2 linked regions of the Homo sapiens genome follow. The protein of the gene in region 1 purifies or fractionates together with the protein of each later gene. This does not show direct contact. Each region holds a gene or a part of one and is shown on either strand. Other genes may lie near its edges.

Region 1 (7,000 bases):
TAAATGAGCTAATCTTTGTCCAATGTTTAATGTTATGCCTCACAGAGAGGGTAGTAAATGCTATTATTACACAAAATTTAAAAGATTTTGATACATGTCATCAAATTATACTCTAAAAGCAGACCCTTTCATAACCTTGGGCAAGCTCGTTTTATTCAAATCTGCAATGTGATTTACATTTCTTTGACCATTTGTAAAGCTGAACTTTCCCCGTACTTTTGACCATTTTTTGGTCCTTCTGCGAGTTGCCTACTGATAACCTGACTTGTTTTCTCCTAAAGTATTCAACTTTTTCTTACTGATCCGTAAGATCACTTCAAATATCAGCATTGGTCCTTTGTAATACATGACATAAATGTATTCCACAGTTTGTTTGCCTTTTAATTTTACTTTGTTTTTAGTTTTTGATATATAAAATTTAGGTAGTCAAATCTATTAGTATTCATGGTTTCCTACAACACCAAGAGTGAACCCTAATGTAAACTATGGGTGGTAATGACATATTCACGTCGGTTCATCATTGTAAGGGGGGAAATCTCCGTACCTTCTTAATTTTGCTGTGAATCTAAAACTGCTCTAATAAAGTATTTAAAAAATAAAAAATAAAGGTGTTACTGTTACATAAAAAATATTCATGGTTTCTACTATTCGCTCTATGTCTTCCTCATTCTGTGCTCATAAAAATGATAACATGGGTCTTTTCTTTCAAGGCCTTTTATGGTTTCAAGTTTTAATTTTAATTCAACTGGAATTTATTTTTATGGACACAGAAATCTCATCTAAAAAGCTTCCTTTAGTAACTGAAGATTCAAACAATGCTGCTTGAATCATTTTCTAAATTCCATTAATTCCAAGTGTCCTTTCTCTAGTTAAGAAACTAGTTATAATCATTTTTGTTGTTGTTGTTGTTTTATTTTATTTTATTTATATATTTTTTTGAGACGAGTCTCGCTGTGTCGCCCAGGCTGGAGTGCAGTCGCGCGATCTCGGCTCACTGCAAGCTCCGCCTCCCGGGTTCATCTCATTCTCCTGCTTCAGCCTCCACAGTAGCTGGGACTACATGCGTCCGCCACCACGCCCGGCTAATTTTTATTTATTTATTTATTTTGTATTTTTAGTAAAGACAGGGTTTCACCATGTTAGCCAGGATGGTCTCGATCTCCTGACCTCGTGATCCACCCACCCTGGCCTCCCAAAGTGCTGGGATTTCACTCTTGTTGCCCAGGCTGGAGTGCAATGGTGTGATCTTGGCTCACTACAACCTCCGCCTCCCAGGTTCAGGCAGTTCTCCTGCTTCAGCCTCCCAAATAGCTGGGACTACAGGCACACGCCACTACACCCGGCTAATTTTGTATTTTTAGTAGGGACGGGGTTTCACCATGTTGCCCAGGCTGGTCTCGAACTCCTGACCTCAGGTGATCCACCCACCTCGGCCTCCCAAAGTGCTGGGACTACAGGCGTGAGCCACTGAGCCCGGCCGAAACTAGTTATAATCATTTTTAATGTGTGCATAATATCTAATTGAATGACAATCCAATAATTTAACCATTCCTCAATTAGATATTTTGGTTGCTTTTAATTCTTCATAATAATAAATAATGTTAGGCTAAAGAGCTTAATGAATACTATTTTTTCTATATTTGAAAGTGTTTCCTTAAGCTAGAGTCCCAGATGTGGAGGTAAAGAGTCAAAGGAAATGGATATGTTTATAATGTTCATTATCTGAAATTCTCTTTACTTGGACCCTATTGAGCAACTTTTCTCAAGAACTTCTATGTCCCTTTTTATATACCTGCTCCATTCCTAAGTTGTCAGACATCTTTCCAGTATTATACTTTTCTCTGACCCCTCTCTAAATTTACATACTTAAGACTGTCATACATACCCTCTATATCACAAAATATCCTGCTTACCTTACCTTTATTTCAAATAAATCAGTAAGCTTGGTCCAATAGGATATTTCTTCCTTCTCTTTATTATTTTCTGCATGTACTAGTGAGTGAGATAAAGTAAGAATTTGAATGTGTGATAATACCAACAGATGGTAGGTCTTATTTGCTGGCAACAGTACACGATTGCCCATCTGTCTCTGCCATGATTCACACAGGGTATCAGATGTACCAGAATACTGAATACAGAATACTTTCAACAACACAGAGTGCCATGGTTTGGAGAATTAATACTGAACAAGGCTGTCAGGAATTATAGAGTAAACAGAAAGTATGTTACTTAAGCTACAAGAGCTCATGTCAAAGTCAGGATTCATAACATTCTTAAACTTATACATGAATATGCATGGTGGGCTCCAGAGGGCAGCTGACTTCTTAATGGTTCCAAAGCACGGATCTCCTAATAGAGCTGACATTTTTGTGAGTACTATGAATAAACTGAGTGGCAAAGAGAAGAAATAATTTCTTCTCTAAACAACGTTTTGCCATTCTAATTCTAGCAGGCAGATAAGCCAGTGATCATATTTTCTCCAACTGGCTTCTTTCTCTCTTACCCTCTTTCTTGTTGAACAAGAACCAATTGTGTAACCTGAGAGTCATCCTAAACTTTTCCTTCTCCCTCCAGCCTCACATTTAATTAATCACCAATGTCTGAGAATTCCACTCCAAAAGCTTACTTGAATCCATCCCCTTCATTCTCCTTGCCACTAATTTTATATCTTTATCACTTCTAAAATAAATTACTGCTCTTAAATGATCTCCACATCTTCACTCTAATGACTTTGGTCCATTTTGTACAGACTTGCTACCTACAGGTAAAACATAAACTTCATAACCTAGACCCTACCTGTATCTCCCACCTTATATCCTGCACTATCCTGTTCTCTTGCCTCCAGTCCCACCTATCCTCCCACCATATACCTAGAGGTTTAAAACTGTAAGTAAAATTACTTATAGTTCCTTGAAGAATTATTTGTCTCTCTTAAAAGTAGAGCATAGGCCGAGCGCAGTGGCTCATGCCTATAATCCCAGCCCTTTGGGAGGCCAAGGCGGGTGGATCATCTGAGGTCGGAAGTTCAAGACCAGCCTGATCAACATGGAGAAACCCCGTCTCTACTAAAAGTACAAAATTAGCCAGGCGTGGTGGTGCATGCCTGTAATCCCAGCTACTCAGGAGGCTGAGGCAGGAGAATCGCTCGAACCCGCGAGGCGGAGGTTGTGGTGAGCTGAGATCGCGCCATTGCACTCCAGCCTGGGCAGCAAGAGCAAAACTCCGTCTCAAATAATAATAATAATGATAATAAAATAATAATAGAGCATAATGTCTATAGGCTGTAAGATCAGTGATGATGGATCTACTAGTTATGAGCTGTGACCACAGGCAAGTGACTTAACGTGTCTGTGCCTTGATTTTCTCATCTGTAAGGCAGGGAATGTTTGCTGAAGAAAGAAATAATTTCTTCTGAGGCCTCACCTGCTAAATCTTTTTAATCTCTAAAAAAGAGCTATGGCCATAGGAGAGATTATTGTTCTCTACAAATGACTTCTAAATCTTCCCAGTGACCCAGCCTAGTAGAGGACACAAAGAGACAAGAAAAAAAAACCCAATCTGTTACTAATCCTTAGTCTACTCCATTAATAAGAACATGATTAAAAACAACATCCATGACTCATGGAAATGGGAACTATAAATGTAAAAATGTGAAATAAAAGTGAGCCAATGTAAAGCCCCCTTCCAAACTTTGGAGACATAAAATGATAAGGTATAGGTCTACACATGAGTTTTAAAGGAGTACAACTCAGCACATTATTCTTCACATTAAGAAATCACAGTGACCATTCAGAAAGGTCTTATATCTTTAATTAAAAGGATATTATTGGTTAGGCTCTGAAGGCCATGAAAAGGAAAGGGAAACACTTTGCATATAATTAGAATGCAATTTACTTATACATTATAGAGATCTTAAATCAGCATGCCTATTCTTTGAAAATAACAATCATTTAATATCTTAAAAAGACAGTCACGTATCTGTTTAATTGCTGACAGTCTTAATGATGGTTCATTTGTTCTCTTTTACCATTAATATTACAACTACTACCAAATATTTCAACAATTCCTTGCTGTATTCTTATTAATTTTTTTGTGTAAGCAGGTAATTTGAAAATTATGAGACTTTTAATTTATTTTCATATTTATATTATGGATAGGAGTTACACTAGATCATAAGTGGTATCTTGCATCTCTATTTCGATAGTTATTTAAAGCGAAAAGACGATACTTACCACAACTTGTAACACCTGTTCATTGTGAAGCGAGGAAGAGGAAGAAGATGAAGAAGAGGAAGAGGAAGAAGAGGAGGAAGAGGAAGAAGAGGAGGAAGAATAAGAAGAGGGAGAGTCAGCCATCATTTGTGCCAAAGTCTGCATCAGCGTTTTTCCAAGGAGAAAAAATGAGCTAAACATGGCAATTACGCCAAACACCATTCCAAAATTGAACCTGTCAAAAGGGAAAAAAATCATGTTAATTTACAATTTCTCTCAATTCATGGACTAGCAAATTCACTAAGCAGCCACATTTCATAGCTTTAAAATAATGGCTAAAAAATTTCAGTAACTCTGCTTCTTTTTCCTACATGAACTTCAAATATTTGACTGCAGCATGAGCACTAGTTTAAGCAGTTTTATAATTTATAATTCTCTGATAACTAAAGAATCTGAATATCATTCCCAATAAAAAAGTTTGTTTCCTCTCATGCACTTGCTCATTTACATAATATTGTTTTGATCTTGTCCTTATATCGTTATGAAAGCCCTTTTGACGTTATAGACATCCATCCTTTTTCATCTACCTCTTCTATTGTCTGCATCGTATTTCAGCTTTACTTTGTGATAAAATGAGCTTAAATATTAACATGGTATAATTTAATAATAATTTCTTTTTTCTATTGTTTTAATTATTAAAAGCTACCATTGTATAGTGGAGATAATCTGCCATGTTTTCTAACTTTGGTAAGTTGTGCTTTTCAAGGAACTTGTTTATTTCACTAAAACTGTCAAATTTATAGGCATAGAATTTTCTTAATAGTCTTACTATGTTTTTAATGCCTATAGAATCTGTAGTAATGTCCTCTTTTCAATTCCAATTTTTGTTTTTGAGACAGGGTCCCACTGTGTCACCCAAGTTGGAGTGCAGTGGCACGGTCACAGCTCACTGCAGCCTTCACCTCCCAGAGCTCAGGTGATCCTCCCAACTCAGCCTCCCAAGTAGCTGGGACCACAGACCCATACCACCACGCCTGGCTAAGTTTTATATTTTTTGTAGAGATGGGGTTTCGCCATGTTACCCAGGCTGGTTTCGAACTCCTGGGCTGAAGCAATCCGCCCATCTCGGCCTCCTAAAGTGCTGGGATTACAGGCATGGGCCACTGTGCCTGGCCTCAATTCTCATTTTTAATTACTTACGTTTCTTTTTTCTTCATCAGTCATGGTAGGGGTTTATCAATTAATATTTTCTATTTATTTATTTATTTATTTATTTATTTATTTATTTATTTATTTGAGATAGGGTCTTGCTGTGTCACACAGGCTGCAGTGCAGTGGTGTGATCTTGGCTCTCTGCAACCTCTGCCTCCCAAGTTCAAGGATTCTTGTGCCTTAGCCTCCCGAGTAGCTGGGACCACGTGCGCCACCATGCCCGGCTAATTTTTGTATTTTTAGTAGAGACAGGGTTTCACCATGTTGGCCAGGCTGGTCTCGAACTCCTGGCCTCAAGCAATCCACCTGCCTCAGCCTCCCAAAGTGCTGGGATTACAGGTGTGAACCACTGCGCCCGGCCCAATTAATATTTTCAAAGAACCAACTTTTGGCTTTGCTGATTTTCTCTATTGTATATTTTCTATTTCACTGATTTCTGTTCTTATCTTTATTATATCCTTCTTTCCACTTTGTATGCTTTGATCTGCTATTGCATTTTCTGCTAACTCTGATGATCTGATTGTTTACATTTAGCTCTAATCCATTTGGGGCTAAATTTTTAACAAAAAGAAATCTAGACCATGCCACCCCTGACCCTCACATTCTCTCATCTACAGAACCTGCCTGTATCTTGGGTGTCCCAGAGATCATTGTAAAGCCCCTAACTATAAATTGCCATAAATGCCTTGATTTTTAATGTATGCAAGCCACAATGATACAATCCCATAAGGTTATATAAAACCAGAAAGTTTTAATATTGTCAATATTTTAAAACTCAGAAAACTGCAAAGTAATGGAAATAGTTAATTTAACAAGCTGTCTGTCGTGATCACTTAATGATTAACCTAAACCAAACAAAAGAAGATGAAGAATACCATTGGTAAAGCATCCTTGCTTTCCGCCGTCCCCAACTGTAAAAGGCACGATTGAAAACAGCAGTTTGCCATCTTATGTGGAAAGGGGAGATGCTCAGTCCGTTGTTTTCCAGCCAGTCTTCATAAGAATGTTTAAAATAGACAGATGACTAAGAGAGAAAGAAAAGTTCTACATCACTCAATTTTGAAGAACAATTTATAATGTGTAAGAAAATAACACAAAGTATTTTCTAGAGGAAATTAAGATGCTGACTTCCCAAATGTTTATAATCTTAAAGCTTTATGTTTATTCTTCAGAATATTAAAGGTCACAGACCTAACCGGTCTACTGAGATTAGGGTCTGGTAAACTATGGGCCACAGGCCAAATCCGAACTACAGACTGTTTTCACACAACTTGTGAGCTAAGAATAGTTTTCACATTTTTAAGGGATTATAAAAAGACAATAAAAACCAAAAATATGCGACAGAGACCCTCTGTGGCCCAAAAAGCCTAAAATACTTACTACCAAGCACTTTACAAAAAGTTCGCTGACCCCTGCTTAGAACAGTGTTGTCCAATAGAAATATAATGTGAGCCACAAATGTAAGCCACATATATAACTTTAAATTTTCTAACAGCCAAATTTTAAATATTAATTTTCGTATACTTATGCCCCAAAATATCCAAGATATTTCAACATGTAATCAACATACACTATTG
Region 2 (3,566 bases), on another chromosome or scaffold:
TGGTGACAGAACGAGAGACTCTGTCTCAAAAAAAAAAAAAAAGCAACAAACTACATTCTCTTTTATTCCATATCCTTCTACTAAGGAGAAATGGGGTAAGGATTTAGTGGGATATACATAAAGTAAAGCTGTGTTTCTTCTATCAGTTAAAATTTCTACTGTTTTACTGATGAAAAGAGGATAGTTTTATTATGCAATAGTCTTAATAAGGGTTTGTTTTAAATTGGTTCTTATTGGTTGGTGAAAAGTAACTGCAGTTTTAAATGGCAAAAATCATTAAACACATAAGATATAAAACTGGGGCTTTGAGGTTATGAAGCTTAACTAAGTGTAACCATGCAATCTCTGATGGGTTGGGAGGCTTGGAGATTTAATTATTTTTTTCAAACGCTATTTTTTGGCAGAGGCTTCCACACCATTTGTAAATTACTTTTTGAAAACATTTACCAAAAGACTAAGGTACGACTACCACATAAAATTACTGTTTAGGGAGACAGAACTTCTGCATGAACTTTCCCCTTTGGGAAAAAGGGTTTAAAAAAACAAAAAGTAACATTTATTTGCGCCTAGGCTAATAGAAAGAATGAGACTAAACCCCTTGTTTGTTTTTATTGATTCTTTTTAAGATTGAAACAGACTATTACAACAATATTTGAGATTTCACAGAGAACTGCATGCTTTTGTTATTAAAAGACTTTTGTTGAAAAATTTGACCTTTACCTCTTATGAACGAAAGAAATATAGAGGTTTCAAGCATTTTTGCCAGCACAGAGTCATTCACAACAACCTTCTAGATGCTTATTTTCTACCTTTTCCTACAGAAGGTAATATTCAGTTACCAGAAGGCCATCTCCACCACTGAATGATTCAAAGCTTCAGAGCTCAAAAGTGATCAGAACTCACAAATTAGCATAATTAGTCCAAAGCTTGATTTAAATGTTTGAAGAACAGCAAACATCAAATAATATAATACCAAATAGAATATTATAGTCTCTATGAGGTAATAACTCATCAGCTACAACCACCTAAAACTGAAATTTTCTGTACTTAGTTTCTATTAGTACAACACCTTCATTCTTAATGCTTCTTAGGGCATCACAGGTTTTAGAAATTAATGTATTTTTAGCATTCCACAGTAATGATCACTTTCAAAAACTGCAATATACATCTGCATGTTACACTGACATACAACACATAAGTATTTTGTCACACATCAACTTTTAGCCTCAAATAATAGAATACAAAAAGCTACACTGGACATAACACCACAGAACTTTTGAATATCCCCTTTTCCCAATTGTTAACAGGTAGTACTTTTTTTCTAAAGAGAAAGTGATGAAAAATCCAAAATTTCTGCATCCAGTGTTTGACTCCAACTTTCTACTTTATCGTCTCCTGGTACCACCATATCCTAGAATGAGAGGGGTAAAATTTACATTAGTTTTTAAAAATGCATTAGAATTGCTTATAAAATTACAAGTCATACATGTTTATTGTCAGCAAATGAATGAGATAGGAGGAAAGGAAAGAGTGTGCCACTAGGTGGAACTGGGCTAAGCAGGACAGTGCATCGCCTCCCACAGCAACCTTCCCAATCATCAAGCCTACTACACTCACACATGGTTGCTGGGAATGACAGTTAGGACCCCAAAAAAGAGAATGCATTCTATAGTGGGGCCACCATGGTACAGGCAATACTCAAAGTCTAAGCCAAAAAGACAGAGGCCAGTGGCGCATAAGCCATGCCCTGCTACCTCTCACAACTCCAGTGGTAAGAGACGTAATGTGGGGAGGGTTACGGACTTTAGATGCTTAAACGTTACTTAAGACACTGTGCGCACACACACAGGCTACAGGATGACAAATCTTCCTATCTAGAAAGTCTCTCAATTATTTTCAGGTTTACATTATTTGGTTTTTATGATTTTCTTTCATATAATTCCCATACATTTCTAGTTCATAGTCATGATTTTATGCAAGTCTTCTTTCCACTGAGAATGAATATTTTTCTGTCATGATGTCTTACCTAGCCATATATATATATATATATATATATATATTTTTTTTTTTTTTTTTTGAGACAGAGTTTTGCTCTTGTTGCCCAGGCTGGAGTGCAATGGTGCAATCTCGGCTCACTGCAACTTCTGCCTCCCGCGTTCAAGCGATTCTCCTGCCTCACCCTCCCAAATAGCTGGGATTACAGGCATGTGCCACTACACCCAGCTAATTTTTGTATTTTTAGCAGACATGGGGTTTCACCATGTTGGGCAGGCTAGTCTCGAACTCCTGACCTCAGGTGATCCACCCATCTCAGCTTCCCAAAGTGCTGGTATTACAGGTGTGAGCCACCGTGCCTGGCCTTACCTAGTCATATTTTTATATATTCTCCCAACTCCTTTTTTTCTTCCCAGAAGTACCTACTATCTCATACTCTAACACCATAAATTAGTTTTGCCTGTTTTTGCATGTGTATTTTATAAAATGTAACTGCTATCATCATAGTGTATATATTATTTTGTGTCTGGCTTCTTTATATTTGGTAGATCTATCCATGTTATTGCACACAACTACTTATTCTTAGTTGCACAGTAACCCACTGCAATACAGCAAACATAACTCAATTTATTCATCCATTTTACTGCTGATGGATACGTGGGCTGTTTCCAGTTTTGGGCAATTATGAATAGGGATGCTATGAACAGTCTTGTGCTTATCTGCCAGCACACAAGTGTATGCATTTCTGTGGCGATATATCTGAGAGCAAAACTGCTCTGTCCTTTGGAAGTATGCATAGGTTCAATTTTAGGAGGTAGTACCAGTTTTTTTAATTGAATGTATCAATATATATCCAAACCAGCATTATGAGAATTCTACTCACATTTTAAAACATATTTAAATATATTTTTCTATCAATTTCAAGAATTAATCATTGTTCTATAACTTCCTTTTCCTGAAAGACAAAGCTACTCCAGAGCAATCTCTCATGGCCTCCTTACCCAGCAGCTCCCAATTAGGCTTGATGCTTAATCCAGTTATTCCTTTGTTTTTTTTGTATCTTTGCTTTTTACAAAATATCCTCTGAGCATTCCAATAAACATTACAATCATATTTTTGAAAATTAAAGTATACCTCAATATCTTTTTTGAATGTTATTGAATTTTAAGTTTAAGCTTCTACTTAGAAAAGTCTAGTTTAGAACTTAAAGGATCTCTAGAGATCACAGAATTAAATATATGGGGAAGCTAGCACCCAGTAAGGTTCAAGTTAAAACCTTGGTCTATGGTAGAGCTAAGCCTAAATCAAATCCCTGTTTGATTTTTAAAGAATGTTTAAAAGTGGGATCTCAGTTAACTGTGCTATTAATATTTTTGGTAGGTACACCAAATAAAACCATGGTTGCTAAACAGATAATCATCTTCTAAAGTTCCCAAACTATTTCTGTACTTTACTCCTAGGTAAAAGGAACTTGTATTTTTTGCTCTTACCTGATGCAGTTCTGGTTTTCGTGTCTGAGTTTGAACATACCGAATAGCTGCCCGAGCCTCCATGAAGGGGTGAGTAAGCCC

What was found.
Region 2: the proteins of MBTPS2 (region 1) and SARAF purify together in Homo sapiens (affinity purification with mass spectrometry; 2 studies listed by BioGRID and IntAct, with this or other methods). This does not show direct contact.

What each region holds. Positions count from the first base shown.
Region 1 is NC_000023.11:21,842,617-21,849,616, reverse strand, and holds part of MBTPS2 (membrane-bound transcription factor site-2 protease), read right to left. Parts: intron 6,448-7,000; coding exon 6,299-6,447; intron 4,447-6,298; coding exon 4,233-4,446; intron 1-4,232. UniProt on the Homo sapiens protein: Zinc metalloprotease that mediates intramembrane proteolysis of proteins such as ATF6, ATF6B, SREBF1/SREBP1 and SREBF2/SREBP2.
Region 2 is NC_000008.11:30,062,503-30,066,068, forward strand, and holds the end of SARAF (store-operated calcium entry-associated regulatory factor isoform 1 precursor), read right to left. Parts: coding exon 3,486-3,566; intron 1,412-3,485; coding exon 1,386-1,411; 3' UTR 501-1,385; downstream 1-500. UniProt on the Homo sapiens protein: Negative regulator of store-operated Ca(2+) entry (SOCE) involved in protecting cells from Ca(2+) overfilling.